4 separate regions of the Homo sapiens genome follow, and regions 1, 2 and 4 are each linked to region 3. The links come from fine-mapping of genetic effects on gene expression. A gene starts in region 3. Each other region holds a variant in brackets. All regions are shown on one strand. Distances are between the middles of the regions. Region 1 overlaps NDE1 (nudE neurodevelopment protein 1). Region 2 overlaps NDE1 (nudE neurodevelopment protein 1). Region 3 holds the start of NDE1 (nudE neurodevelopment protein 1). Region 4 overlaps MPV17L-BMERB1 (MPV17L-BMERB1 readthrough).

Region 1 (7,752 bases), 42 kb before region 3:
ATGCAGACCTGCTTCTAGAATAGCAAACCAGACAGCCAAAAACCAGAAGTAAAAACAAAAGAAATGAGTTGCAAGCTTCTATTAAGTTGTAGCTACAAATACACTGTGTACAGTGACAACTTGGTAGGAGTTAAATTATGTGGCCTTCTAGGCATCATTTTTAAAAATAAACTACAAAGAATACCTATGTTTTTACTTAAGCACAAAAGGATCCCTCCCTGTAATTAACATAAAAGCTGAAAGGCCAAATTCTTTGCCCTAGGCTTTCAAGATTTTTTTTTTTTTTTTTTTTGAGACCAAGTCTCACTTTGTCACCCAGCGGTGCGATCTCAGCTCACTGCAACCTCCGCCTCCCGGATTCAAACAATTTTCCTGCATAAGCCTCTCAAGTAGCTGGGATCGCAGGTGCCCACCACCATTCCTGGCTAATTTTTGTATTTTTAGTAGAGATGGGGTTTCACCATGTTGGCCAGGCTGGTCTTGAATTCCTGACTTCAGGTGATCCACCCATCTCGGTCTCCCAAAGTGTCAAAATTCACTTAAACCCCAAGAAACAAACCAAAAAAAAAAAAAAAAAAAAAAAAGGTGGCAGTTTTTTTCTCTTCTGAGACAACGTCGTGCTGTCACCCAGGATGGAGTGCAGTGTTGGAATCTCAGCTCACTCAGCCTCAACCTCCCAGGCTGAAGCAATCCTCCCACCTCTCAGCCTCCTGAGTAGCTGGGACCACCAGTGTACACCATCAGGCCTGGCTAATTTTTGCATTCTTGTAGAGGCCAAGTCGGGGCAGGGGGTTTCACCATGTTGCCCGGGCTGGTGTCAGACTCCTGAGCTCAAGTAATCTCCCACCTTGGCCTCCCAAAGCACTGGGATTACAGGTATGAGCACCCGGCCAAAAGAGAAGGCAGTTTCCAAGTGCTCCTTAATTTTTCGAGTTAAGGAAAAAACACACATATCACCCTAATTTCCCAAATTTCCTAGAGGAAAAACGGTAAAAGGAAAGAGACATACATAGGGTTCAGAGCAGGGCTTCGAGTCAGAGCTCTGAGTGTCTGGCAGTAACTCCCACAGGAAGCTCTAATGATTCCCAGGGATGCTAAAGGAGCAGCCACACCTAAAACTCACCACACTGCTATGAAAGGGGCTGGACGCATTGGCTCATGCCTGTAATCCCAGAACTTTGGGAGGCCAACCTGGGAGGATCACTTGAGGCCAGGAGTTTAAGACCAGCCTGGGCAACACAGCGATACCCACATTACTACAAAAAAATGAAAGTATCAGCCAGGCATAGTGGCGCACACCTGTGGTCCAAGCTCCTCGGGAAGCTAAGGTGAGAGGATCGCTTGAACCCAGGATTTTGAGGCTGCAGTGAGTTGTGATCATACCACTACACTCCAGCCTGAGCAACAGAGCAAGACCCTGTCTCTAAAAAAAAAGAAAAAAAGAAGAGAGGGAAGGAACTAGATCAACCCCCTTCACACATCCTGAAAGACAGGCAGGAAGGCACCAAACGCCAGGAAAGTGTGGTCTTACCCCGACTTTCCGCAGTAGGTCTCCCACAATGTTGAGGGCTGATATCCGGGCCGCAGGTGTGAGGGGGGTCCCCCCGGTGGAGTCGTCCAGGCCTGGGTGTGCAAAGGGAAGAGCATGTAACTCACCAACCTATAGTCATGTCTGTGCGTTAACATCGCTAGATCCAAAACCACGGGACAGGAGGGACACTGACGCCTTTCCTCGGATCCCAAAAGCTACCCTATTTCTTTCCGTAGTTAACCGCATCACACACCCAAGGCCCGTATGACAACCAATTTTTCAAGTCCTTGTGATGACTGCAACAAATACTTATTTTTACATGTTAGTCTTGCTCTGTCACCCGGACTGGAGTGCGGTGATGTGATCTCAGCTCACTGCAACCTCCGCCTCCCAGGTTCAAGCGATTCTCCTGCCTTGGCCTCTTGAGTAGCTGGGATTATAGCCATGTGCCACCACACCCGGCTAATTTTTGTATTTTTAGTAGAGACAGAGTTCCATCACGTTGTCCAGGCTGGTCTCGAACTCTTGACCTCAAATGATCTGCCCGCCTTGGCCTCCAAAAGTGCTGGGATTACGGGCGTGAGCCACCATGCCTGGCCTTTAACAAATTTTTTTTTTAATAGAGACAGGGTCTCACTATGTTGCCCAGGCTGATCATGAACTCCTAGTTTCAAGCGATCCTCCCACCTTGGCCGCCCAAAGGGCTGGTATTTACAGGCATGAGCCACCGTGCCCAGCCACATTAGTCTTTTTAAACAAACCCAAAACAAATCCTTTTGAAATTGTAGAAAATCCATATAGTTAATTAACATAATGGCATCTGTGATAGATACAAGAACTATAGACAGGATGATCCAGCTTTACAAGGGTCCCGCTCTGCAGAGCCTCTCTTCTCCAAGTGGGGTCCATGCACCAGCAGCACATGAGAACTGTTAGAAATGCAGAATCTCTCGGCCAGGCACAGTAGCTCACACCTGTAATCCCAGTGCTTTCAGAGGCCGAGGCAGTTCGATCAGTTGAGGTCAGGAGTTCAAGACCAGCCTGGCCAACATGGCAAAATCTTGTTTCTACTAAAAATACAAAATTAGCTGGGCATGGTAACAGGTGCCTGCCTGTAATCCCAGCTACTCGGGAGGCTGAGGCATGAGAATCGCTTGAATCCAGGAGGCAGAGGCTGCAGTGAGCCAAGATCAATGCCGCTGCACTCCAGCCTGGCCGACAGAGCAAGACTTTGTCTCAAAAAAAAAAAAAAAGAGAGAAAGAAATTTCAGGCCCCACCCAAGACCCACTTGATCTGAGGTACATTCTACCAAGATCCCCAGGTAAGCTACATGCATATTGAAGTGTGGAAACATAGCCAGGCATGGAGTTGCATGCCTCTAGTCCCAGCTACTCAGGAGGCTGAGGCAGGAGGATCACTGGAGCCCAGGAGTTGGAGGCTGCAGTGAGCTATGATTGCACCACTGCACTCCAGCCTGGGCCACAGACCAAGACTGTGTCTCTAAAAACAACAATGAAATAAAGTATGCAAAATGGCTCTAGACTGGGGCTAGGCACAGTGACTCATACATGTAATACCACCACTTTCAGGGGCTGAGGCAGGCAGATCACCTGAGGTCAGTAGTTTGAGACCAGCCCGGCCAACATGGTGAAACCCCATCTCTACTAAAAATACAAGATTAGCCAGGCATGGTGGTGGGCACCTGTAATTCAAGCTTACTCAGGAGGCTGAGGCAGGAGAATCACTTGAACCTGGGAGGAGGGGGTTACAGCGAGCCAATATCGCACCATTGCACTCCAGCCTGGGCAACAGAGCAAAACTCCATCTCAACAAAACTAAACAGAAGGGCTCTGCACCGGAATTCTAGAAGTCTCACTGGTCTCTTCATGCCCAGGGGACAAGCTAAGGGATAAGGTAGTAGATGGTAGGGTAAGCCCTGGAGCCTGCCTGCCTGGGTCTGAATCCCAAACCATCTGCCATTCAATTGCTTCATGACTCTGCTTAACTCAGAGCCTCACTTTCATCAAACGGGGACAGCACCTGCATCCTGGGCCTGCGGCGAAGGCTGCAGGCTGGCCAGCACACACTGAGCACTCCTTAACTGTCTGTTATTAATATCTGCTGTAAAAGGCCTGATCGGAAGCTGTCAGCAGAGGGGCTGGGGTGAGAACTGAGATTCTTTTTTTCTGCCCATGCAGCACACGTTACGCTGAGTCTAGCTCTCGGTGGATGTATTACTAAACCCACAGAACGCTTTTTACTTTTTTGTATTTGGTCAGTGACATTTCAAATTTGGGAGGTTTTATATTCAACAAGAGGATTTTTGACCAGGCGCGGTGGCTCACACCTGTAATCCCAGCACTTTGGGATCAGCCGAGGTGGGCGGATCACTTGAGTCCAGGAATTTGATACCAGCCTGGGCGACATGGCAAGACTGTGTCTCCACCTAAAATACAAAAGTTAGCCAG[G/A]TGCCTTTAGTCCCAGCTACTCCGGAGGATGAGGTGGGAGAATCACTTGAGCCCACGATGAAGAGGTTGCAGTGAGCCAAGATCACGTCACTACACTCCAGCCTGGGCAACAGAGTGAGATCCTGTCTCAAAAAAAAAAACCCAACAAAAAAAAAGAGGATTTCTGGCTTTGAAGAATGGAAAAAGCTGCAGATGAAGGGCCAATCCTCGTAGCTGCAGAGTGGCAGCCACCCGCTCTGGGTGGGGTTTCCATTTCATCAGACTCCACTACTGCCTCTTACCCAGTCCTCACTGATCTCAATGCCCATCCCCAAGAACATCCCAGTCTACTCTCTGCTCAAAGCCTGAGAGCAAATCAGGCTCTGAGCCTGATGCAAATCATCACACCCCCAGGACCCACCCCAGATTCTTACCCAGAAACACTTTGTGAACCGAGAAAATCCTGCAATTCCCACTCCCCTTACCACGTCTGAAGCTCCCAGGTGTGTTTAAACTTGAGCTGGGTCCTCGGTGAGCAATGGGCGTGGACGGCACGGAGCCCGTGGCCTGCACAGCTGTGTCTGTCCTCTCAGCTTCCACTGAGCTGGGCATGGGGGTCCTGGGTTTCTCCTGCTTCTGCTGCACGGCCAGTTCCTGCCGCAAATCTGTGCCAGAAAAAGGATTCAGGAATTCAAGTCCTCAGCCAGGCGCAGTGGCTCATGTTTATAATGCCAGCACTTTGGGAGGCCAAGGCAGGTGGATCGCCTGAGGTCAGGAGTTCGAGACCAGCCTGACCAACATGGTGAAACCTCATCTCTATTGAAAATACAAAAATTAGCCCAGCATGGTAGTAGGCACCTGTAATCTCAGCTACTCAGGAGGATGAGGCATGAGAATCATTTGAACCTGGGAGGCCAGGGTGGCAGTGAGCTGAGATTGCTCCAGCGCACTCCAGTCTGGGTGACAAGAGCAAGACTACGTCTCAAAAAACAAAAAGGGAATTTAAGTCCTTGCTTAGGGTTGGTGGGGTGCAGGGAGAGAGGTTCAACAGTAGATACCAGTCAGAAAAAAGACCTACTGGGGTGAAACACTCCAGGTAGAAACCCCAAATAAAGGGAAACCCACAGGACCTTGCCTAGCAGACTTGGAACTCTACAGGATGTTTCTCTTGACTAACAAAATGGTTTCAGATTTTTAAAAAGCTATGACAGTGACACACTAATGCTTTTATTATTGAAAAAACAATTCCAACATAGCAGTGTATTTAGAACACTAAATGAAAATATGCCCGGGAGCAGTGACTCATGCCTGTAATCCCAGCACTTTGGGAGGCTGAGGTGTAAGAATCACATTAATCCAGTAAGTCGAGGCTGCAGTAAGCCATGATCATACCACTTCAGCCTGGGCGAGAGTGAGACCTCTGGCTCAAAAAAAAAAAAAAAAAAAAAAAAAAAAGAAAAAAAAAAAAAAAGGCCAGTTGCACTGGCTCAAGCCTATAATCCCAGCACTCTGAGAGGTCGAGATGGGAGGATTGCTTGAGGTCAGGAATTTTCAGGCCAACATGGCAAAACCCCGTCTCTATTAAAAATACAAAAAATTAGCCATGCGTGGTGGTGAGCGCCTGTAGTCCCAGCTGCTTGGGAGGCTGAGGCAAGACAATCGCTTGAGCCTGGGGGACAAGCAGTGAGTGCAGTGAGCTGAGATCACGCCACTGCACTCCAGCCTGTGTGACAGAGCAAGACTGTCTCAAAAATAAATAAAGTATGCTTTCCAGACTATCCCCAAATGCTCCTCCTCACTCATCATCACCATAACATGTGGGAGAGCTTTTCAACCATTGTTCTCTGAATTTTTTTTTTTTTTTTTTTTTGAGATGGAGTTTCACTCTCTTGCCCGGGCTTAAGTGCAGTGGCACAGTCTCGGCTCACTGTAAATCTGCCTCCCGGGTTCAAGTGATTCTCCTGCCTCAGCCTCCCAAGTAGCTGGGATTACAGGCACGCACCACCACACCTGGCTAATTTTTGTATTTTTAGTAGACACAGGGTTTCACCATGTTGTCCAGGCTGGACTCTAACTCCTGACCTCAGGTGATCCACCCACCTTGGCCTCCCAAAGTGCTGGGAATACAGGCGTGAGCCACTGCGCCCAGCTGTTCTCTCCATTTTCAAACATAAACTTTATACATATGTATGTATCTACTGAGCATAAAACAAGAAAATTTTTTATTAAGCATTACTGGAAACATACAATATGTTGTCCTGTGTATGACTTACTCTCCCCACTTCAGTGGTATGTCTTGGCAATGATTTTTGTTTTAGAGACAGGGTCTGACTCAGTCACCCAGGCTGGGGTGCGGTGGCACAATCATAGCTCAATGTAACCTTGAACTCCTGGGCTCAAGTCATCCTCCCACTTCAGCCTCCTAAGTAGCTGGAACTACAGACATATGCCACCAGGCCTAATTTTTACAATTTTCATTTTTGTAGAGATGGGGTATCACTATGTTGTCCAGGCTCATCTTGAACTCCTAGGCTCAAGCAATCCTCTTGCGTCCGTCTCTCAAAGCACTGAGATTACAGGCATCAGCCACTGTGCCTAGCCTTGGCAATCTTTCTACCACAACATTTCTATCTACTGTTCATTTTAACCATTAACATTTCACAAAATACATCTATGTACTTCATTTAACCACTTCATTACTGATGGACATCTAGGAACAACTACTTTATTAAACTTAAGAATTTTTACTTTTTATCCCCCACCTACTGGTTACACATTAGAAAGCAAATCGACGTTATAAATAATTAATTGGGCCAGCAACAGTGACCCACCCCTATAATCCCAGCACTTTGGGAGGCCGAGGCAGGCAGATCGCCTGGGGTCAGGAGTTCAAGACCAGCCTGGCCAACATGGTGAAACCCCATCTCTATTAAAAATATAAAAATTAGCCAGGCATGGTGGTGCACACCTGCAGTCCCAGCTACTCAGGAGGCTGAAGCAGGGGAATCGCTGAACCTGGGAGGCAGAGGTTGCAGTGAGCAGAGATAGCACCACTGCACTCCAGCCTGGACAACAGAGCAAGACGCCATCTCAAAAAAAAAAAAAAAAAAAAAAAAAAAGGTAAAAACAACTTGGACAATCCACTAATGAATGTCTTTTTTTTTTTTTTTTTTTTGAGACAAGAGTCTCACTCTGTCACCCAGGCTGGAGTGCAATGGTGTAATTTTGGCTCACTACAACCTCCACCTCCCAGGTTCAAGCAATTCTCGTGCCTCAGCCTCCTGAGCAGCTGGGATTGCAGGCACCCACCACCATACCCTCATGTTTTCTATTTTTAGTAGAGATGGGGTTTCTCTATGTTGTCCAGGCTGGTCTCAAACTCCTGAGCTCAGGTGATCCACCTGCCTCAGCCTCCCAAAGTGCTGGGATTACAGGTGTGAACCACTGTGCCTGGCCAAATGCCTCATTACAGTTTCAACATTCTACCTCTGGAAGTGCCAACTGAAAAAGAGCAAATGCTGATGAGGTTTCAAAGTTTTAGCCAAATATATTGGTTGCCATCAAGTCACAAAAATAATAGGCTAGCTGGCAATTCCACCAGAAATTTCTCCCCACAACATCTTTGCTTCTTAAGAGACAGGGTCTCACTCTGTCACCCAGGCTGGAGTGCACTGGTGCCATCATAGCTCACTGCATACTCCACCTCCTGGGCTGAAGCAATCATCCCACCTTGGCTTCCTGAGTAGCTGGGACTACAGGCACATGCCATCACA
Region 2 (7,752 bases), 59 kb before region 3:
ACCTCTGTACACTTCTATTTTTTTTCCATTTCTATGCTGAACCCTCTGGCACCAACCGAGGCCAACACCTCCATTGGACCCGACCCTCTTGTTCACTCAAGCACATAGCTCCAAAAATCCTTATTTTGCAAGGTTTTCTCTTTCATTTGCTCCATCAGCAAATGGAATAACCTCTTAGCCCCATGTCTACCTTGCTACCCTTACTACAAAACTGGATGTGAATGCCGAAACCCTGTCTCTACCAAAAAATATAAAAATTAGCCAGGTGTGGTGGTGCATGCCTATAGTTCCAGCTACTCAGGAGGCTGAGGCACAAGAATGGCTTAAAACCGGGAGAGAGAGGTTGCAGTCCAGCCTGGGTGACAGAGTGAGACTCGGTCTCAAAAAAAAAAAAACTGTATGTGAAGAGTTGCTGGTTCCCCTCGCCCCCACCCATCACTCTCCCAGAAGCCTCCCATGGGTGACACTAATGGCCAGAGGTCCCCTGACAGGGCAGCAGCACGTGACGCAGTCCATCATGCCTCTGGCCTAATTCACTTGCTTCCCTGGACTTCCCCGACACCATCCACACCTGCTTGTCCCCCGACCTGTGGGGTTGTCCCTCTTCCTCTCCTCTGCTGATCCCTCACCTCGAAACCTGCTTGCCACTAGACCGCCCCAGGGTATCAACTTAGTTCTCTTTTGGGCAGAGTCTTGCTCTGTTGCCCAGGCTGGAGTGCAGTAGCACTATCTCAGCTCACTGCAACCTCTGCCTCCCAGTTCAAGCTATTTTTGGCCTATTTTTATATTTTTAGTAGAGATGGGGTTGCACCATGTTGCCCAGGCTGGTCTTGAACTCCTGATCTTGTGATCCACCCGCCTCAGCCTCCCCACGTGCTGGGATTACAGGCATGGACCACTGCACGGCCTTAGTTGTTTTCATCTCTCCCCAGCGCTAGGTGAGAGGTCTCAACTAATCTTGGCGCTTTAGAATTCCATGTATATCTAATGACTCCTCAGTTCATCTCTGAGAAGCCCTAGCTTCTTCCTAGAACCTCAGACCACCCTCCCGTTCCCACATGGATGTCTAATAGGCAGCTCACACCAAACATGCTGCACCCCAAGTCCTGACTGAAACTCTTCACCCCCAAACTGGCTCCTCTCTCCAGCTCAGCAGCTAAAATGATGAAGTTGCCAACAATTCACATCACAAACCTCGTGGTCCTTCTTAACGTTTTGGTCTCCTTTATACCCCACATCCCATCTATGGGAGAATCTGGTCAACTTTCCCTAAAGAATCCTGCCCAGGCTGGGTGCAGTGGCTCACCCCTTAATCCCAGCACTTTGGGAGGCCAACGCAGGCTGATCACCTGAGGTCAGGAGTTCAAGGCCAGCCTGACCAACATGGTGAAACCCCGTCTCTACTAAAAACACAAAAATTAGCCGGGTATGGTGGGGCGTGCCTGTAATCCCAGCTACTAGGGAGGCTGAGGCAGGAGAATCGCTTGAACCTGGGAGACACAGGTTACAGTGAGCTGAGATCGCACCACTGCACTTCAGCCTGGGTGACAGACCAAAACTCGGTCTCAAAAAAAAAATCTCCAGTGTCTAGGACAGCACCAGGCAGAGTGAACCTTTATCCCTCGGGTCCTAGATATTTTCCCCGCTTCATTCTCATACCACCACAGCCATGTGCTGAGCCTCTTACTACCTTTAATACCAATGACTTGATCTTTTAACAGTTTTAATCATACATGAATATAACGGCAAATAAACATACCTCCTCTATATTTTTAAACCAGCATCACCTCTATCAACTGGTTACGATGAAAGTAATATGATAAAAATAGTATCAAGTTCAATATCTAGCTATTGTGGCCACAACTTGATCACCAAGACCTGAAGCCTACTTCTCCACTAAAAAGGGAGTGACAACAGCCATTAGCACCAAATAGACTCTCTCTGACATCATAATTAGACTTGTTTAAAAAGAGTTGGAAAGGAAATGACTTTCTCAGGGCCCAGTTCAGTTAGCGGATGGCATGCCCGGAAGCCATCTGAAATCACCTCTAGAGTTTGGGGACCACTGCGTGAGACAGGGAAAAGTCCAAACCCCTCTGAGAAGGGGAAGAGAGCAGCTGGCGCAGGGCACCAAGCCTTCAGGGAAAAGCCCCACTCGCTGCATGGTGAGCGCTTGTTGGTCCCCCATGGATAGGAGAGAAACCAGGCCTAGGCTCCCAAAGTACAGCAGGGGCCTGGAAGCATCTCCCAGGGTTGAGGGGTCAGTGGAGGAGAGCTGTTCTCACTGTGAAGACTCCTGGGGCAAAGCGCGGTGGCTCACGCCTGTAATCCCAGCACTTTGGGAGGCTGAGGTGGGCTGATCACCTGAGGTCAGGAGTTCGAGACCAGCCTGGCCAACATGGTGAAACTTCATCTCTACTAAAAACACAAAAATCAGCTAGGCGTGGTGGCAGATGCCTGTAATCCCAGCTACTCGTGAGGCTGAGACAGGACACTCCTTTGCAACCCAGGAGGAGGAGCCTGCAGTGAGCCAAGATCAAGCCTCTATACTCCAGCCTTCAGAGCAAGACTCTGTCTCCAAAAAAAAAACAAAAAACAAAAACCCTCAGATGTGCTCTGCTGGCAACCAGTCCCCCTGCCTCTCCTGAGTGGCTGGGCTGAGCGATGGGGATACAGCCACTCTGACTCCCTACCCCACTGCTGTCTCTGCTTCCCTTTCTCAGGCCCAGTGATTTCTTTTCTTTTTATTATTTATTTTTAGACGGAGTCTAGCTCTGTTGCCAGGCTGGAGTGCAGTGGCGCGATCTCGGCTCACTGCAACCTTTGCCTCCCAGGTTCAAGCGATTCTCCTGCCTCAGCCTCCCAAGTAGCTGAGATTACAGGTGCGTGCCACCACACCTGGCTAATTTTTGTATTTTTAGTAGTGGCAAGGTTTCACCATACTGGCTGGGATGGTCTCGATCTCCTGACCTCGTGATCCACCTGCCTCGGTCTCCCAAAGTGCTGGGGTTACAGGCGTGAGCCACCATGCCCGGCCGGCCCAGTGATTCTTTAGCACACACTGGACACCTCCTGTGGGTTCTGCCCCAGACACTTGAGCCTTCTTGGGCAGCCAAGGGCAAAGTGGAACAAAAAGACCATTTTTGCCAGTTCCGACACGAATACACACATAATGCAGGTGGAAGGTCTGTCCTGCCTTCTGCATCTTTTGGGTGCACAAAAACATAAAATCAGGCACTAGAGCCCTGAGGGAGGTTGGTAAGCATGCCTGGCTCCTCAGCCAAGAAGGAACTGTAGTGCGAGTTTCACCAAGTTCTATCAGCCAGACGCATCTCGACACAAGCCCTCTCTAAAGCCAGACCCACTTACCTACCACTGGCTACACTGCCAGTTACCTCCGGCAAGAGCTGTACAAGGCCTCCACCTCTCCTCTCTTGCTAGAGGCCCGAAAGCTAATGAAGAGCAAGTAATCATAAACCAAGGGACAGGCGGCTGCAGGTTCCTTGCCTGGGACTTCTTGGCTTCTGTTCCAACACTGATTTCTCAAACTAGCTTGCTCAAATGCTTTTACTTCCCTGAACCAGTATGCAATCATGGGATTTATAGGAGGTTCTTAAAAGTAGCTCTAAAGGACAGACATTTTCCTTTCCATTTAAAAAACTGAGCC[G/A]GGTGCAGTGGCTCACACCTGTAATCCCAGCTCTTTGGGAGGCCGAGGTGGGTGGATCACTTGAGGTCAGGAGTTCGAGACCAGCATGGCCAACATGGTGAAACTCCGTCTCTACTAAAAATATGAAAATTAGCCAGCCACGGTGGTGCATGCCTGTAATCCCAGCTACTCGGGAGGCTGAGGCAGGAGAATCGCTTGAACCCGGGAGGTGGAGGTTGCAGTGAGCAGAGATAGATCATGCCAGTGCACTCCATCCTGGGTGACAGAGTATCAAAAAACTGCTTATCCTTTCATCTACCAGCCTCACCAAATGCTCTTGGCGTCAGGTGATTCACTGCAACGTTGACTTAAGGGTGCTTTTAATGCCAGGTGCGGTGGTTCATGCCTGTAATCCCAAATCCCAGCACCTTGGGAGGCCAAGGCAGGAAGATCATTGACATCAGGAGTTGGAGACAAGCCTGACCAACATAGTGCAACCCCATCTGTACTAAAAATACAAAAATTAGCCAAGCACGTGGGGCCTGCCTGTAATCCCAGCTACTCGGGAGGCTGAGACAAGGGGATCACTTGAATCCAGGACGTAGAGGTTGCAGTGAGCCAAGATCGCACCCCTGCACTCCAGCCTGGGTGACAGAGACTATCTCAAAATAAAAAAGAGTGCCTTTAATTATTAAATCGAAGCAAATGTCTTTAACAATTAAGAATATACTTAACCGGGCTCCTTCTTGTTTGCTGATGGTAACCTCCGGGGATTCTCTCTCTGTTTCAGAGGGCCCCCCCCACAGGAAACTTCGCAGTGATGCACCAGGTATCATGCCTTCAGCTTCGCAGCTGTGTGTTGTCTCAGTATCCATTTCTTTTCTGCCCAATGCGCCCCTCTGCCCACCCCAATTTTTAAACCCTTGCACATTTCCACGAGATTCTTGCAAAATCTGGAGGCTTGGATATCTTTGTGCAAAGCTTTCATTGAAACCAAGATCAGGATGACAAATAGACCTCATCTCTTGACCCACTGTCCTTCCTGCCTCTGGGCAGCACATGTGACATGACACCCAACAGTGTGCGCCCTTATCACTGCATCTTGACGAGATGGCAGAGGCTGTGTGTGTAGCTTGGATTTTTCTTCCTTTCATGCCAAAAGCCACTCTTACGTGGTTAGGGCACTCAGCAGTGCTGTCCTCCCTTGTCCAGTGAAGACACTGCACTGAATGAATATGACAGTTCCACTATCTGGGCACATTCCTGGAGAACGTACTTGGCTTCTAGTTGGCTGGTCTGGGTCACAAGTCAGAGATCACAAAGTTCACGGTAACTGCGGCGCGGCAACCAGTCCTCCCATGATTCAGCTTTCACAGGCTTGTCTGCGAAGGAAATGAGCTCACTGCGATGTCTGACAAATGCCGGGGGCTGCACGTGGCTTGAGTGATGTCTAGCTACAAACTGCATTTTCAGCACACGGGGTGGAAGCTGACCACCGCAAAGCCAAGCACAGTCCTGGCAGAGCCTTTTCTGGAGGCTTCACGGGCATGTACATGTTCAGGGACTGGGGAGTGGATACCCAAGACTCAAGGATGCACACAGGGCCCTTCCCAAGAAAGCATGAAGAGGTCTCTGCTGCTCTGGGATTTTGCTTTTTTTTTTTTTTTTTTTTGAGACGGAGTCTCGCTCTGGAGTGCAATGGCGCAATCTTGGCTCACCGCAACCTTTGCCTCCTGGGTTCAAGCGATTCTCCTACCTCAGCCTTCTGAGTAGCTGGGATTACAGGCTCCCGCCACCTCGCCCAGCTAATTTTTGTATTTTTATTAGAGACAGGATATCACCATGTTGGCCAGGCTGGTCTCAAACTCCTGACTTCAGGTGATCCGCGCGCCTTGGCCTCCCCAAATGCTGGGATTACAAGCATGACCAACTTTTCACAGGTGAAGTTAGGCCATGTGGATCTGACTTCACCTCATGGAGAGGCCAAACCAACCCTCATTTGTGTCCATCTTCATTTTTGGAGAATCTCAGCTTTGCTGTCACTACCAAAATACTTAAAGCGCAGGGTGAGGTCTTGTTAAGAGCCAGTTTTGTGGGGGAGCAGATGAGTTTCTAGGACACTTCAAGCAGCTCTCCTACCAGCTGATTGGGATCATAGGATAAGCCAAATTCCAGGGTGGGCTGAAGTGCAGAACCCACTGGTCAGTGGGAAACTGAGTCCTTGCAAACTAGCAGGTGCTTACACTCAAGATGATTCCCGAGGCCTTGGATAAGCTGAGTCCACGAATAGAATCCAAATGCTAGGCCAGGCACAGTGGGTCATGCCTATAATCCCAGCACTTTGGGAGGCCGAGGCGGGCAGATAACTTGAGGTCAGGACCAGCCTGGCCAACATGGTAAAACCCCGTCTCTCCTAAAAATACAAAAATTAGCCAGGAGTGGTGGCATGTCTGTAGTCCCAGTTACTTGGAAGGCTGAGGCAGGAGAATCGCTTGAACCTGGGAGGCAGAGGCTGCAGTGAGCCAAGATCACGCCACTGCACTCCAGCCTGGGCAACACAGCGAGACTCTATTTCAAAAAAAAATTCCAGATTCTCCAGGATCAGACCCTTTAAGAAAACCTTTAGGGGGGTCCCTTAGTTCCTGTAACAGGTATAGTTGGTGTCAACCTTGGTCTAGGATTTGAAACCAGTTCCAAGAAAAGCACTTCAGCCAAAACAGAGTATCTTGCAGGCTGACAGCCAAGCAAGGAGCTTCAACGGCCCAGGGCACAATGTATTTCTTAGGTCAAGGGAGCAAATTTATCCATTAAGCTTTTCCAGTTAGCAAATAGACTCTTCCAAGAGCCAAAAAGAGAGTGCCTAGAGCACTGATGTGGAGGTTAGGGACTACTTCCCAGCTCATCAGATTTTTTTTTGTTTTTTTTTTTGGAGACAGTCTTGCTGTTTCCCAGGCTGGAGTGCAGTGGCACAACGTTGGCTCACTGCAGCCTTCACCTCCTGGGTTCAAGCAATTCTCCTGCCTCAGCCTCCTGAGTGACTGGGATTCCAGGCGCCTGCCACCACGCACGGCTAATTTAGTATATTTAGTAGAGACGGGGTTTCACCATATTGGCCAGGATGGCCTCGAACAACTGACCTCACGAGTGATCTGCCCACCTCGGCCTCCCCAAGTGCTGGGATTACAGGCATGAGTCGCAGCAACTGGCCAACCCATCAGGGTTTGAACCTGGAGTTAAAACTGTGACGAAGAGAGCTGTGTGGGGAGCGTACAGGGAACAGTCAAACTGCTGCTCCTCTGCGCTGAATTTGAGCATCCTTCTGAGTCAAGCGCTTGGAAAACAGTGCTAAAAAAGAAAAAGACTTAAGGGTCACATCTAGAGAGAGAAGGATGGAGAGTTCTCTAGTAGGGCTGCAAGTCCAGAAGCTTCTCTGTGAAGCTGGGCTAGGAGTGTTTACTTTGAAGTGGCTGCAGCTTTAAGTATTTATTCCTGATCGCTGCACTGCGGGAAGTCCCATCCTTTATAGCCAGGTGGGCTTTCCCAGCCGGGGTCTCTCCCATCCTCTGTCAACAAAAGGGTCATTTGCGAATTCCTCTTCTCAGTGATCATGAATCTCTGGGCCTTGATTTTTTTTTTTTTTTTTTTTTGAGACGGAGTCTCACCCTGTCGCCTAGGCTGGAGTGCAGTGGCCACATCTCGGCTCACTGCAAGCTCCGCCTCCTGGGTTCATGTCATTCTCCTGCCTCAGCCTCCCTCCCGAGTAGCTGGGACTACAGGCACCCGCCAGCACGCCCGGCTAATTTTTTGTATTTTTAGTAGAGACACGGTTTCACCATGTTAGCCAGGATGGTCTCGATCTCCTGACCTCATGATCCGCCCGCCTCAGCCTCCCAAAGTGCTGAGATTACAGGTGTGAGCCACCATGCCCAGCCGAGTTGTTCCTTTTGACTAAAGAATTGGTCACTGAGTTGTGTTCATCCTTATGGCTTCTTATCCAACCCTTGCGTGGGGAGCAAAAGTCTGCTCTCTTCTTTGATGTCCTAAAATAAGACCTGTCTTCCGATTCAGGTCAAACAGGGCCAGATGGCCAGAGCCCAACATAATTA
Region 3 (7,752 bases):
ATGCCTGTAATCCCAGCACTTTGGGAGGGTGAGGCAGGCAGATCACCTGAGGTCAGCAGATAAGAGACCAGCCTGGGCAACATGGTGAAACCCCATCTCTACCAAAAACACAAAAAAATTAGCCAGGTGTGGTGATGCACACCTGTGGTCCCAGCTACTCAGGAGGCTGAGGTGGGAGGATCACTTGAGCATGGGAGGCGGTGGTTGCAGTGAGCCGAGATCGCCCCACAGCACTCCAGCCTGTGTGACAGAGCGAGAACCCGTCTCAAAAAAAAAAAATTGTTTCCACATGCTTTTTTTTTTTTTGCATGTTTTACATGATTAAAGCTAACAAAAAAGTCTGAAAATACACTCGAGACACACACCTCTGATTTTAAAACTCTGGAAAAAAGCAAAGCAATCTCTTTCAGCTTTCCTCTGAGAGAAGAAACCCAGCACTGCTAGTCAGGAGCAATAAACATACAGAAACCATCGATAATTACTCAACACCCTTCTCCATCCCCACTCCATATCCTTCCCAATCAAAACAAACAGAAGAGCAGGAGGGAAGAGAAAGAAGCTGCCAAATGTCCACACATGCTCCGACAGCCAGGACGCAGGCTTTGCATTTTGCAGGAGTGACATCACTGGGGCAACATCAGTCAAGAGTCAGCAAGCCTGGCTTCTGTCTTTGTGCTTTCCAAGTTTACAATGATCAACCTACAAAAATACTTAGGCAGGCAAGGACCCATGTTCAAAGATGCACACCATCATTCACGAATGTGGAAAACTGGAAACCTCAATGTCAACAGAGGACTGAATGGAAAACGATGCAGTTGTTAAGAACTGTAAGTACTAATATGGAAGAAAGCTCAGGATATGTTAAAAATGGGTGCCCATTTTTGTTTATTTCCCTCTCTCTGTACACAGAATAGAAAAGGGTCTGGAGGATGCACCAGAATGGGGGTAAAGCAAGCCCTGTGGATTTGTACCTGACACCTTGCTTTAAGGTAAACTACATACACATATATACAGTAAGCATAGATCGCTTTAGAGATTTTAAAAAGCTTAGGCCAGGCGCGGTGGCTCTCTCCCACCCCGGCACGTTGGGAGGCTGAGGCGGAAGGATCGCTTGAACCCAGGAGTTCGAGACCAGCCTGGGCAACATAGTGAGACCCCAATCTCTACAAAAAATTTTAAAAATTAGCCAAGCATGGTGGCATGTGCTTTTAGTCCCAGCTACTTGGGAGGCTCAGGCAAGAGGATTGCTTGAGCCTGAGAGGTCGAGACTGCAGTGAGCTGTGATTGCATCACTGTGTTCCAGCTTGGGCGACAGAGTGAGATCCCGTCTCAAAAAACAAACAAACAAAAACTTGGACAAAAAGTAAAATAGCTATTGTTCCAGGATAATTTTATTCTACTGAACCAAGTGACAGGGAAAGAATTTTTCCTACTGTGGTTTTGCCTCCTCCAACCCTTTTCAAACATTTCTTGAATACCTACTAAGTGCTGGGCACTGCTGAAGGAGGCAGACAAAAAGCACCCACATCCATTGCACGAGGTGCACGTGTAGTACTAACTGCAGGCACAAACTTTCTGTACACAGGAATGCTCATGTTAGGAAATTACCTTGTGAGGAAAAGGAGTGTCAATTCTCGGCTCACATTCTAAGGCAAAAGAACACACTTTGGGCTGCATGCAGTGGCTCATGCCTGCAAGTAATCTCAGCACTGTGGGAGGCCAAGGCAGGAGGACTGCTTGAGCCCAGGAATTTGAGACCAGCCTGGGCAACAAAGCAAGATTCTGCCTCTACATAAAAAATAATAATAATGATAGAGTCGGGTGCAGTGGCTCATGCCTGTAATCCCAACACTTTGGGAGGCTGAGGTGGGCAGATCACGAGGTCAGAAGTTTGAGACCAGCCTGGCCAATATGGTGAAACCCCATCTCTACTAAGAATTAGCCGGGCATGGTGGCACGCACCTGTAATCCCAGCTACTCAGGAGGGTGAGGCAGAAGAATCACTTGAACCCGGAGGACTGAGGTTGCAGTGAGTCGAGATCATGCCACTGCACTCCAGCCTGGACAAGAACAAGACTCCGTCTCAAAATAAATAAATAAATAAATAATAAATAACACACTTTGGAAACAAAAATAAGTCAAGTTAATAAACTGTTATCCAACATGGGATAAAATATATGAATCACAGGCCCCTGAGACTTCAGCGGCACAGATCATCTGCATTTAATCCTACACAAAACACACACTAAGAGGAAAGGCTCAAAATGGGTTGTAGGCCGGCACGGTGGCTCACGCCTGTAATCCCAGCACTTTGGGAGGCCGAGGGGGCAGATCACGAGGTCAGGAAATCGAGACCATCCTGGCTAACACGGTGAAACCCCATCTCTACTAAAAATACAAAAAATTAGCCAGGCGTGGTGGCACGCACCTGTAGTCCCAGCTACTCCGGAGGCTGAGGCAGGAGAATCGCTTGAACCCGGGAAGCGGAGGTTGCAGTGAGCCAAAATCGCACCACTGCACTCCAACCTGGGCGAGAGTGAGACTCTGTCTCAAAAACAAAAACAAAAAAAAAAAAAAAAAAACGGGTTGTATACCAACGAGGTGATGGAGGCTGGGGTGGTCGGGTAACAAGAGGCTTTAGGAGTAGCTGGGATCTAATTAATCTTCAAAACACCCGACCCATGTCCTAAAATGCCATCCTATGCTAGAATACACTATAACAAAACTAAAAATGATGAACCTGCCTAGGTCGTGCTGCAAAGGCCTTTTCTTTAGAAAGTTAAAAGGGGCCTGAGGCTCAAAGTAGAAATTAAGAGGCACAACCTGGTAGTAACCACGGACAAAGCAATCAAGGAAGCTCAGGCCCTCAGGAGGCAGAAAGCCTGAGATGGCTCGGAGAAGATAAAGTCGCCTCCCCAAAAGCGGTGTCAAGGTGACAGCGGGGTTTCCCAGGACCTCAGAGACTCAGGTCCTCAGTGAGCCCAGCCATCACTCAAGCTGCGGAATAAGCATTTTCGTCCTTTACCCAATCCCTCCCCAAAGTGCTGTCAGAAGAAACCTGAACCGTCCTGCGGCAGAGACGGGAGCAAAGCGGAGAGCAGACTGCCCCAAACGTGTTCCCGGAGGGAGGGAGCAGGGTGGGTTTTTGGAAAGAGGCCTGCAGGGGCGGGACAGTGGGTGTGAGGGCAGGGGCAACGCTGCAATCGAGGGGTCTGGGGTCGCAGAGAAGCGGGTGGCAGGATGGAGGAATAGGAGAGAGAGAGAAAAGAAACGAGGGTCATCTAGGAGAGGAGTATGGGGAGGAAGGAAGAGGAGAAAGAGGATGGAGCCTGGCAGCGGGGTTTGGGGACCGGCAAGGCTTAACCACCCAGGAAGTCCCGGAAGGAGAAGAGGGCAACGGGGTGGGAGAGAGACCAACGCAGAAAGAGAAACAAAGTTGCCAAGGGCGAGGGGCCAGCGCGAGGAACGCACCGGTGGCAAGGCACTCAGTGCCTAACTTTTTAGGACGGGAGGCTCCAGGGAGGCGGGATTTTGGAGCCCAGGGACCGGGGGAGTCCAGGCGGCCGGGAAGCGACGCGCAAGCGAGGGGCGTAGGGGTCCCTGCCAGGCGGTGGCCCGGGGTCCCGGGATCCTGGGGCGGGGCAGAGGAGCTTTTCAGCCGCGGTGGAGGTCCCCGGACAGCCACCCCGACCCCAGCCCCGCGCAGCGCCTCACTTACCCGAGCAGGGGCGGCGAGGCCAACGCGGCGGCGGCGGCAGAGGCGGCTGCGAAGGGCGGTGCGGCCCCGGCCCTCCGGACCCCGCCCCCGCCCCGGAGCCTGCGGTCGGCGCCTCCCATTGGCTGCTGCTCTACGGTACCGCGTCCGCCTCGGCCAATCAGCGCAGAGCAGCGTCGTTTGGAAACTTTTTTCCCAGGCCGGGCGCGGCGCGGCCAAGCGGCGAAGGCTCCTGGCCGGAGGGGGTTTGAGAGGCGCCGGCTGCCGGGCGCTGGGCTGCGGCGGGCTGGCGGGCATTGGAGATGCTGCAGAACGCTGCCTGGACACCCGGGAAACGGGTTTGGGCTTGCGGGCCGCGCATTTCAGGAAAATACGCCGGCCTCTCCTTCACTTCGATTGCATTTTCCCATTCTTGCACTTTCTCCAAATCAGAAGGAAAGACAAAGATTCAGGCCCACTGAAGCTAGCAGTGCCCCGTGCCCTTCCTACTCCTTTACACCAAAAGTAGAATCTTCAGCATCATTATCTTCTCCAGAAGCAGGAGAACGTAGTGCACCAGAATTTGGTCATAAACTTGGCTTTGAGTCCTAGTCCTGCCCCTTACTAACTGTGTGGTCTTGGGAAAGTTGTTTAGCCTCTATGACTCCGTTTCCCCATCTATAAAACGCCATTATGGGTCTGGCGCGGTGGTCACGCCTGTAATCCCAGCACTTTGGGAGGCCAAGGCGGGTGGATCACGAGGTCAGGAGTTCAAGACCAGCCTGGCACATGGTGAAACCCCGTCTCTACTAAAGATACAAAAAATTAGCCGGATGTGGTGGCACGCACCTGTAATCCCAGCTACTCAGGAGGCTGAGGCAGGAGAATCACGGGAAACCGGGAGGTGGCGGTTGCAGTGAGCCGAGATCACACCACTGCACTCTAGCCTAGGCGACAGGGCAAGACTCCGTCTTAAAGAACAGACAAACAAACAAACGACATTATGCAGAGGACTAAATGACTTAACAGCATTTGTAAAAACGTTTAGAACAGAAATTTGAACTTAGTAAGTACAATATATGTATTTGTTAAATGATCTTGATTTTGTTTATTTATTTATTTTGAGATGAAATCTCCCTCTGTCTCCCAGGCTGGAATGCAGTGGCGTGATCTCCACTCACTGCAACCTCTGCCTTCTGAGTTCAAGCAATTCTCCTGCTTCAGCCTCCCGAGTAGCTGGGATCACAGGCCCGCATCACCACACCCGGCTAATTTTTATATTTTTAGTAGAGACGGGGTTTCACCATGTTGGCCAGGCTGCTCTCGAATCCCTGTCCTCAGGTGATCCACCCACCTCGGCCTCCCAAAGTCCTGGGATTACAGGCGTGAGCCACCACACACTGCCTGAAGATCGTGATTTTTAAATGGCTGTGTGTGCCAGGCACAATTCTCACAGCAACCCTAATTGTTCACTAACAAATTAAAATTAAAAAATAATTTTTTTCTTTTCGAGACAGAGTTTCCCTCTTGTTGCCCAGGCTGGCGTGCAATGGTGCGATCTCGGCTCACTGCAACCTCTGCCTCCCAGATTCAAGCGATTTTCTTGTCTTAGTCTCCCTAGTAGCTGGGATTACAGGCGCCCACCATTACGCCCAGCTAATTTTTTGTATTTTTAGTAGAGACACGGTTTCACTGTGTTGGCCAGGCTGGTCTCGAACTCCTGACCTCAAGCAATACACCTCAGTCTCCCAAAGTGCTGGGATTACAGGCGTGAGCCATGTAACTCAGAAGGCAGAGGTTGCGGTGAGTGGAGATCACGCCACTGCATTCCAGCCTGGGAGACAGAGGGAGACTTCATCTCAAAATAAATAAATAAATAAAATCAAGCCACCATGCTTGGCTGGAATTTCTTTTTTTCTTTATTTTCTTCTAAAACATCCTGTCATAACATGTTCATTAACAAATACCGAACATTCTGGTTAGTGGGTACAAAAATAGAGTTAGAATGAATAAGATCTAGTATTTGGGAGCACAGCAGGGTGACTACAGTCCACAACAATGTATTGTACATTTTAAAATAACTAAAGGAGTATAATTGGAGTGCTTGTAACACAAAGAAAGGATAAATGCTTGAGGTCATGGACACCCATTTACCCTGATGTGATTATGATGCATTGCATGCCTGTTATCAAAATATCTCATGTACCCCATAAATATAAACACCTACAGTGTACCCATAAAAACTAAAAATATATATATTATTATCCAGCTTTTTTTTTTTTTTGTGAGACAGAGTCTCACCCTGTGACATAGGCTGGAGTGCAGTGGCATAATCAAAGCTCACTGCATCCTGGACCTCCCAGGCTCAAGTGATCCTCCCACCTCATCCTCCGGAGTAGCTAGGACCACAGGTGTGCACCAACACGCCCAGCTAATTTTTACATTTTTTTGTAGAGACGTGGATCTCACTATGTTGCCCAGGCTGGTCTTGAACTCCTGGGCTCAAGTGATCCTCCTGCCTCAGCCTCCCTCCCAAAGTGCTGGGATTATAGGCATGAACCACAGCACCCGGCATTATGAGCATTCTTCTGTACAATGCACCCTTACAGCACAGTGAATACAGTCAGACAAAGTACCTGTCCTCAAAGGGCTTATATTGTTAAGAGAGAAACATACTAAATCTATAAGCAGAAAAAGTAACGTCATTTCAGATACTGATAAGTGCTATGACTAAGGCAAGCCCATTTGATACAACGGGCTGGGAGGGGTCACTTCAGATGCTATAGTCAGGGAAGGCCACTGTAGAGAGGAGACCATGCAACTGAACCACAGGTGATGAACCACAGGAAAGCATTAAATTGTATCCATGTTAAAGATAAGAAAATAAAGGTGCAGGAAGTTAATTGAGTTGTCCGAGGTCTTACAACTAGTAATTAACAAATCAGGCTTCAGAGCTGGCTCTGACTCCTAAACCCTCCTTCTTCAGCACTATGCTAGAGGCAAAGAGATCTTAGCTATTACAGGATCTCCCACCCCATCTTGCCTTCCTGCTATCCTACAACAGCCTTTCTCAAATTCTACTTTGAACTCCTTGCTAATTCCTAAAAACTGCTTAGAGGCACAAAGGGGAACCCCACCACCTATCAACAGGTTTAAGGAAAGTACCAAATGTCTTTCAGGAAACTTCCCAAACATTAATGAATCATTTACATGCTGCTTCACACTTTACTACGTCTGATGCCTTCCCCCTTGGAATTTTATTTTATTTCGAGACAGAGTTTCACTCTGTTGCCCAGGCTAGAGTGCAGTGCTGCAATCTCGGCTCACTGCAACCTCCACCTCCCGGGTTCAAGCGATTCTCCTGCCTCAGCCTTTCGACTAGCTGGGATTACAGGTGTTCACCACCATGCCCACCTAATTTTTCTATTTTAGTAGAGGCAGGGTTTCACCATGTTGGCCAGGCTGGTTTTGAACTCCTGACCTCAAGTGCTCCACCCGCCTCAGCCTCCAAAAGTGCTGGGATTACAGGCATGAGCCACCACACCAAGCCTCCCCTTAGGAATTTTATTACTTATTTACTTATTCATTAAGATGGAATCTCACTCTGTCGCCCAGGCTAGAGTGCAGTGGTGCGATCTCGGCTCATTGTAACCTCCACCTTCCAGTTCAAGCGATTCTCCTGCCTCAGCCTACCAAGTAGCTGGTATTAACCCCCCTTGGATTTTTTTTTTCTTTTTTTTGACGGAGTCTCGTTCTGTTGCCCAGGCTGGAGTGCAGTGGCACGATCTCGGCTCACCGCAACCTCTTCCTCCTGGGTTCAAGCGATTCTCCTGCCTCAGATTCCTGAGTAGCTGGGATTTCAGGTGTGCACCACCACGTCCAGCTAATTTTGTAGTTTTAGTAGACACAGGGTTTCACCATGTTGGTTTGGCCAGGCTGGTCTCGAACTCCTGACCTCAAGTGATCCACCTGCCTCGGCCTCCCAAAGTGCTGGGATTACAGGCGTGAGCCACTGCGCCTGGCCCCCCTCGGAATTTTATTTGGCCCTAACCACTCTG
Region 4 (7,752 bases), 79 kb after region 3:
TAGGCCAAAATTGATATGTAATCTCAATGTATTGATTTACAATTTTGCCTGTAACTTCTGCTTGACTGAAATTTACCCCTGCCTTTAAAAACCTGCACTGAAATCGCCATTGCAAAATTATAAGAGACAGTGAAAGAGATCTGACCTAATCAACTCCATCTTGCTTCTAACCTCCAAGCTGTCCTTGTTCATTACTGGGCATAGGCTGAACTAACTATGGGAGGAACTTACTTTATCATTTAAAACAAAGACGATAACAGCCTTTTCCCAAAACAAACTCCCTTCTTGCCTGGGAACTAGACTGCATTTGTAGGTGATACGGTTAGGCTTTGTGTCGCCACCCAAAACTCATCTTGAATTATAATCCCCATCATCCCCACGTGTCAAAGGAGAGACCAGGTGGAGGTGACTGAATCACGCAGGCAGTTTCCCCATGCTGTTCTCGTGATAGTGAGCGAGTTCCCATGAGATCTGATGGTTTTATAAGGGTTGGGCAGTTCCTCCTGCGTTCATTCTCCTTCCTGTCACCTTGTGAAGAGAGTGCCTTGCTTCTCCTTCACCTTCCACCATGATTGTAAGTTTCCTGAGGCTTCCCCAGCTATGCCGAACTGTGAGTCAATGAAACCTCTTTCCTTTATACCCAGTCTTGGGCAGTTCTTGACAGCAGTGTGAAAATGGACTTAACAAATTAACCAGAAGATTAGGAATTATGATAGTGAGTGAGTTCCATGAGATCTGATGGTTTTATAAGGGTTGGGCAGTTCCTCCTGCGTTCATTCTCCTTCCTGTCACCTTGTGAAGAGAGTGCCTTGCTTCTCCTTGACCTTCCACCATGATTGTAAGTTTCCTGAGGCTTCCCCAGCTATGCCGAACTGTGAGTCAATGAAACCTCTTTCCGTTATACCCAGTCTTGGGCAGTTCTTGACAGCAGTGTGAAAATGGACTTAACAAATTAAGCACAAGATTAGGAATTATGGTTTAGGAATCATGCAGCTGGAGGCTACAAGATGCTGACCCTCCCCAGATTACTCCTGAAGATAACACCACTATTGTAAAAACCAAGATCAATGCTTGAGGTATTTTGCAGACCGTGCACTTGATGGGTCAGTGGGTACCACCCAGATAAAGTGGCTCATCTGACCTTGTGGCCCCAACCCAGGAACTGACTCAGTGCAAGAGGACAGCTTCGGCTCCCTGTGATTTCATCTCCGACCCAACCAATCAGCACTCCATTCTCACTGCACCCCCACCCCCATCCACCAAATCGTCTTTAAAAACTCTGATCCTGGAATGCTCAGGGGCACTGATTTGAGGAATAATAAAACTCCAGTCTCCCTCAGCCGGCTATGCATGAATTACTCTTTCTCTATTGTAATTCCCCAGTCTTGATAAGTCAGGTTTGTCTAGGCAGAGGGCAAGGTGAACCTGTTGGACAGAACATTACCTATAAGCCATTGAGGAGGTCAGGCTTGAAGCATTAGCTGCCCAGTCCTCCTGGCTTGGAGCCTTGCAAATAAACTGTTTCCTTTTTACCACTGCAAAAACTCTGGGGAGACAGCTGGTCTTACTGTGCCAGGAAAGCAGACCCTAGTTGTATTAGTCCATTTTCACGCTGCTGATAAAAACATACCCGCAACTGGGTAATTTATAAAGAAAAAGAGGTTTAATGGACTCACAGTTCCACGTGGCTGGGGAGGCCTCACAATCACGGCAGAAGGCAAAAGGCACGTCTTACTTGGCAGCAGGCAGCACAGAAAATGAGAATCAAGCGAAAGGGGAAACCCCTTATAAAACCATCAGCTCTCATGAGACTTCTTCACTACCATGAGAATAGTATGGGGGAAACTGTCCCCCATGATTCAATCATCTCCTACTGGGTCCCTCCCACAACACACGGGGATTATAGGAGCTACAATTCAAGATGAGATTTGGGTGGGAACACAGCCAAACCATATCACAAGTTGAGTTCTATTACAATGCCAGAGTCCAAAGCCAACAATGCCAGATCAATTGCATTGGGGTTTCTAGTGGGTGGAGAATAGACTTTGGTACTTTTCCCTCATTCCTTCGTTGTTTTATGTTTGACATTTAACTTTTTTTGGTAACAGCTTTATTGCAATATGATTCACATACCATGCAGTTCATCTGTTCCAAGTGTATTTGCAGAGTTGTGCAACCATCACCACAATCCATTTTAGAACATTTTAATCACCCCCAGAAGAAACCCCATACCCACTAGCTGTCGCTCTCTTTCAACTAGGAAAGTCTATTCACTCGTTTATCCTTAGGGCCTACACAGTGCTGGGCACCTAGTAAATGCTCACGAAAGCTAGAGGATTCAGTTCTACTGTCATTGCGCACACTACCCTTACAACAAGACTGTGTGGAAGACTCCTACACCTTGCCTTTGTTATTTATGGGATATTCACAACAACCATGCGGGGGGTAGTATTATTGGCCTCATTTTCCCAACAAGGAATTCAAGGCTCAGAGAAATTAAGTCGCGAACTTTCACGAAGTTCACCTGCCTGCTAAGGCTGAATTCAAACCCAGATTGCTGCACTCTAATTACTAAAGTAGTAGTTCTTATGTGGGAGCTGTAAGCTGCAAAGTGTCTGAGAAGGTCTCAATCAATCTGGAGGTTTATTTTGCCAAAGTCGAGGAGGCACCTGGGAAAAAGAGACACAGGCAGCAATAGGATCCCCGGCCTGTGCTTTTTTCTGCAGAGGATCTTAAGGACTTCAATATTTAAAGGGGAAAGAGAGGGCAGGAAGGGGAGGATTGCATTCTCTGGCCCTCAGTGAATTTGCATTTTACATAGGATAAAGGAAACGCGGAGTAGAGGAGGAAGTCAAATGTGCATTTGTCTCCGGGTGGGCGGAGGGACGATGATTTATAGTCTTGTCTTAGTCCCCTACCTGTTAGGATAAGCTGTTAATTTACATTGACAGGGTGAGGGAGGCCCCTGGGAAGATAGGTGGCCTTTCTATCTTGCAGCTATCTGTTTAGGAAAAAAAGAAAGGCAGTTTTGGCTGGGTGTGGTGGCTCACACCTGTAATCCTAGCACTTTGGGAGGCTTGAGGTGGGTGGATCATGAGGTCAGGAGATCGAGACCATCCTGGCTAACACGGTGAAACCCCACCTCTACTAAAAATACAAAAAATTAGCCGGGCGTGGTGGCAGGTGCCTACAGGCTCCCAGCTACTCGGGAGACTGAGGCTGAGGCATGAACCCGGGAGGCGGAACTTGCTGTGAGCAGAGATCGCGCCACTGCACTCCAGCCTGGGGGACAGAGCGAGACTCCGTCTCAAAAAAAAAAAAAAAAGTAGGTTTTTGTATGACTCATAGTTCCCAAGCTTAACTTTTCCTTTTGGTATAGTGAATTGGGGTCCTGGGACTTTATTTTCCTTTCATAGGGCAATGTTGCACACCCCCCTGACCTCGCTTGGGGTACATTCAGCAACATCTGTACATCTATAGACATTTTTGGTTGTCACTGTCAGAAGGGTTTGAACTACAGTGACTCCATCTTGAATAGGGGCTGGGTAAAATAAGGCTGAGACCTACTGGGCTGAATGCCCAGGAGGTTAGGCATTCTAAGTCACAAGATGAGATAGGAGGTCGGCACAAGATACAGGTCACAAAGACCTTCCTGATAAAACAGCATTAGTAAAGAAGGCTGCCAAAACCCACCAAAGCCAAGATGGCGATGAAAGTGACCTCTGGTCGTCCTCACTACTCATTATATGCTAATTATAAGGTATTAGCATGCTAAGAGGTACTCCCATCAGTGCCATGACAGTTTACAAATGTCATGGCAACATCAGGAAGTTACCCTACATGGTCTAAAAAGGGGAGGAACCCTCAGTTGTGGGAATTGCCCACCCCTTTCCCAGAAAACTCATGAATAATCTACCCCTTGTTTAGCATATAATCAAGAAATAGCTATAAGTACAATCAATCGAGGAGCCCAAGCTGCTACCCTGCCTACAGAGTAGCCATTCTTTTATTCCTTTGCTTTCTTAATAAACTTGCTTTCACTTTACGGACTCGCCCTAAATTCTTTCTTGCTCTTGGTCCAAGAACTTTGGGGTCTGGATCAGGATCCCTTTCAGGTAACATCACCATTGAGGGGTAGCGGAGAGGTACGTTGTGCTAATGGCCTGTAGTGGGTAGAGGCCAGGGATGAAACTCAACATCCCACAAGA[C/T]ACAACACAGAGCCCCGTACCCCCAACAAAAAATGATCAACCCCAAAGGAAGATACTGACATTTGTCAACCCCAAATGTCAATAGTTGAAGGTTGGGAAACGCTGCTCTAAGGCTCATCATGCTGCACTTGTAGCTCAGTAAGAACTGCCACTTATGGGCACCCACTGTGTGCTGGGCCCAGTCTCTTTCTGCTAACCTGGGGGCTCCTTGAGAGTGGAGAACCGTTCTCTGTTCATCACTGCAAGCCCGGCTCCTAGGTTCAGAGCTTGCTGCAGAACAGCCTCTTGGGACATAGTTATTGAACTGACAGCATGGCAAAAACATTCAAGTCAAGGGTAATGGTGGGTGCTTATCTGGCCTATTTGAAAACACCTTTGCAAAAATGATAACAGTGAGAAAATTAGGACAGTGAAAGGGATCTGATCTAACCAACCCCCATCTTGCCTTTAACCTCCAAGCTGCCCTTAATCATTCCCAGGTTTAGGCCATGCTAGCTTTGGGAGACATTTAGTTTATAGTTTAAATGATTATAACCTTTTCCACCAACTAAACTGCCTTTGTAAAGCTAATAAAAGGCCCCCATGTTAGAAGGATGGGAGGAGGCTGAATTCTGCTAAGGTGTAGACATAAATGACTACTGCCATTATTCCAGAGGTCACAAGATTTGCAACTTCCCCAATTACTCCTGCAGATAACATCACTATTGCAGAATCTAAGATCAGCCTTTTGAGATATCTCTTTAGGTTTTGCATTTCTGATGAATGATGATCCACGTGGACCTGCCACCCAGAAGTGGACTTAGCACCCCTGAGAATCATTTTTCACACACCTATGATTGCATCCCCAACCAATCAGCAGCATCCATTCTGATATAGTTTGGATGTGTGTCCCCGCCCAAATCTCATATTGAAATGTAATACCCAGTGTTGGAGGCGTGGCCTGATGAGAGGTGATTGGATCATGATGGAGGTTTCTCATGATGGTTTAGCCCCATCCTCCTTGGTACTGTCCTTGTGATAGTGAGTTCTCATGAGATTTGGTCTTTTAAAAGTGTGTGGCACCTCCCGCCTCACTCTCTTGCTCCTGCTCTGGGCACGTGACATGTCTGCTCCCTTGTCTTCCGCCATGATTATAAGTTTCCTGAGGCCTTCCAGCAGCTGAGCAGACACCAGCATCATGCTTCTGGTACAGCCTGCAGGACTGTGAGCCAATTAAACTTATTTTCTTTATAAATTACTCAGTTCTCTCTTTCTTTTTTTTGAGTCGGAGTCTCGCTCTGTCACCCAGGCTGAAGTGCAGTGGTGAGATCTCACCTCACTGCAACCTCCACCTCCTGGGTTCAAGCAATTCTCCCACCTCAGCCTCCTGAGTAGCTGGAATTACAGGCACCCGCCACCACCCCTGGCTAATTTTCATATTTTTACTAGAGATGGGGTTTCACCATGTTTGCCAGGCTGTTCTCAAACTCCTGAACTCAAGTGATCTGCCCTCTCAGCCTCCTAAACTGCTGGGATTACAGGCGTGAGCCACCATGCCTGGCCTGGGACTAGCATTTTGATAAGGGTAAGCCCCACAGAGGGCAACTAACACAGCCTGATGGGCAGGGGAAAATTTTTTGGAGAAGATGCCAAATAAGTCAGGCATTATTAACTACCAAATCTGGGGTGACTTCAAAGTTAGAGTTTGTACACACTTCATCTGTTCCCAAGTAGGATAATAATGGTCATAATTGCTAATATTTACTGGACTCTTGAGGCCAAATATCAAGCTAAGCACTTAGTTTGCATCATCTCATCGATTTTTATGATATTTAATTTAATTTAATTATATATTTTTTTGAGACAGTGTCTCGCTGTGTTGCCCAGGCTGGAGTGCAATGGCACAATCTCAGCTCACTGCAACCTCCACCTCCCAAGCTCAAGTGATTCTCCTGCCTCAGCCTGCCGGTTACCTGGGATTACAGGTGTGTGCCACCACACCTGGCTAATTTTTGTATTTTTAGTAGAGATGGGGTTTTGCCATGTTGGCCAGGCTGGCCTCAAACTCCTGACCTCAAGTAAGCCACCCATCTCAGCCTCCTAAAGTGCTGGGATTACAGGCATTAGCCACCGTGCCCAGCCTCTTTAGGATATTTATACTCAATGAATTAGACCCTCTTACTATTACTAGCCAATTTTCAGAGGAGGAGAAATTGAGTCTCAGAGAAGTACAGTGACTTGTCCAAGGACAAGAAGGTGACCAGAATTCACTAGGACTTGAACCCAGGTCTTCCTGACTCGAAGTTGTGTTTGACACATGCAGTCAGGGAGCACTGCATTGCAAGAATGAGGCTCTGTCTTCCAGACCCAGGCGTACAGATGGGCCAGGCTGGGGGCCCCCAAGCACCTGTTTAGCACAAGGTGAAGTTGCAAATGGTTACCTGGGATGGCGACCAAGTTCTGCAGCTCCTGCTTCAAGTCCATGATGTCCTTGCAGAGCTGGATGTCATCCATCCTGGGGAAACAGGACACCATCAACAGCAGGTTACATCAGCAGAGCATTACGCCCTGAGCATCACCCGGTTAACACAAAGAAGCTATTAAAGGTGGGTTATCTTTTGAAGAGGCCATACATGCTCATTGTAGAGGTTTTCCCTCAAAAGGAAAAAGCCAAACACTGCTCAATTATCCCACCACCTAGAAATGATCACTGTTTTTTGTTTGTTTGTTTGTTTGTGACAGAGTCTCACTCTGTTGCCCAGGCTGGAGTGCAGTGGCATGATCTCGGCTCACCGCAACCTCCACCTTCCGGGTTCAAGCGATTCTCCTGCCTCAGCCTCCCAAGTAACTGGGATTATAGGTGCCTGCCACCATGCCCAGCTAACTTTTTTTGTATTTTTAGTAGTATTTTTAGTAGAGACAGGGTTTCACCATGGTGGCCAGGCTGGTCTTAAACTCCTGGCCTCAAGTGATCTGCACACCTCAGCCTCCCAAAGTGCTGGGATTACAGGCATAAGCCGCGGTGCCTGGCCATCAGTCACTGTTAATAACACCTCGATAGAGCTCCTTCCAGTCTTCATGTGCCTGACTTAGGTTTGCTTATATAAGTGGGTTCATATGGCATATTCAGTTTCGTTTTTCAGCTAAAGTTTACGTTTTTTAAACACTGCAGAAATTCACAACATAGAGGAAAGTCTCCCTCTGTCCTTCGGAGAGAATCATTGTCAACGGTTTAGTATGTATTCCTCTGGATTTTTTAAAAACATTTTTATTTTGAAAATGTTTAATTTTTTATTTTTTATTTTTGGAGATAGAGTGTCGCTCTGTTGCCCAGGATGGAGTGCAGTGGCGTGATCATAGCTTACTGCAGACTTGAACTCCTGGGCTCAAGGGATCCTCCCACCTCTGCACAACCCCTCCCAACCCCAGCCCCCTACGGAGTAGCTGGGACTACAGGCTAATTTTTAAACAGTTTTTTGTAGAGAGAGGGACCTCGTTATGTTGCCCGGCTGGTCTTGGATTCCTGGCTTCAAGCAATCCTCCCACCTCAGCCTCTCAAAGTGCT

What was found. PIP is the estimated chance that this variant, and not a neighbour inherited with it, causes the effect.
Region 1: its variant is fine-mapped to the expression of NDE1 in whole blood (TOPMed, PIP above 0.99).
Region 2: its variant is fine-mapped to the expression of NDE1 in whole blood (INTERVAL, PIP 0.97).
Region 4: its variant is fine-mapped to the expression of NDE1 in whole blood (INTERVAL, PIP 0.97).

The regions. Positions count from the first base shown.
Region 1 is chr16:15,688,036-15,695,787 of GRCh38, reverse strand. NDE1 (nudE neurodevelopment protein 1) reads right to left here. Exons shown (of 9, transcript NM_017668.3): 6 at 4,465-4,644; 7 at 1,532-1,623. Among named protein-coding and RNA genes, the nearest start is that of NDE1, 42 kb to the right of the region's middle. The variant G/A (reference allele first, on the strand shown) is at 4,001.
Region 2 is chr16:15,705,526-15,713,277 of GRCh38, reverse strand. The region is part of intron 8 of NDE1 (nudE neurodevelopment protein 1); the gene reads right to left. The region is part of intron 40 of MYH11 (myosin heavy chain 11); the gene reads left to right. Among named protein-coding and RNA genes, the nearest start is that of NDE1, 59 kb to the right of the region's middle. The variant G/A (reference allele first, on the strand shown) is at 3,668.
Region 3 is chr16:15,646,261-15,654,012 of GRCh38, reverse strand. NDE1 (nudE neurodevelopment protein 1) reads right to left here and starts at 3,768. Exons shown (of 9, transcript NM_017668.3): 1 at 3,719-3,768. RefSeq lists a silencer at 407-701 and enhancers at 3,066-3,565, 3,566-4,067.
Region 4 is chr16:15,566,933-15,574,684 of GRCh38, reverse strand. MPV17L-BMERB1 (MPV17L-BMERB1 readthrough) reads right to left here. Exons shown (of 6, transcript NM_001414674.1): 3 at 6,629-6,702. It overlaps BMERB1 (bMERB domain containing 1), which reads right to left. Exons shown (of 6, transcript NM_033201.3): 3 at 6,629-6,702. Among named protein-coding and RNA genes, the nearest start is that of MIR6506, 40 kb to the left of the region's middle. The variant C/T (reference allele first, on the strand shown) is at 4,209.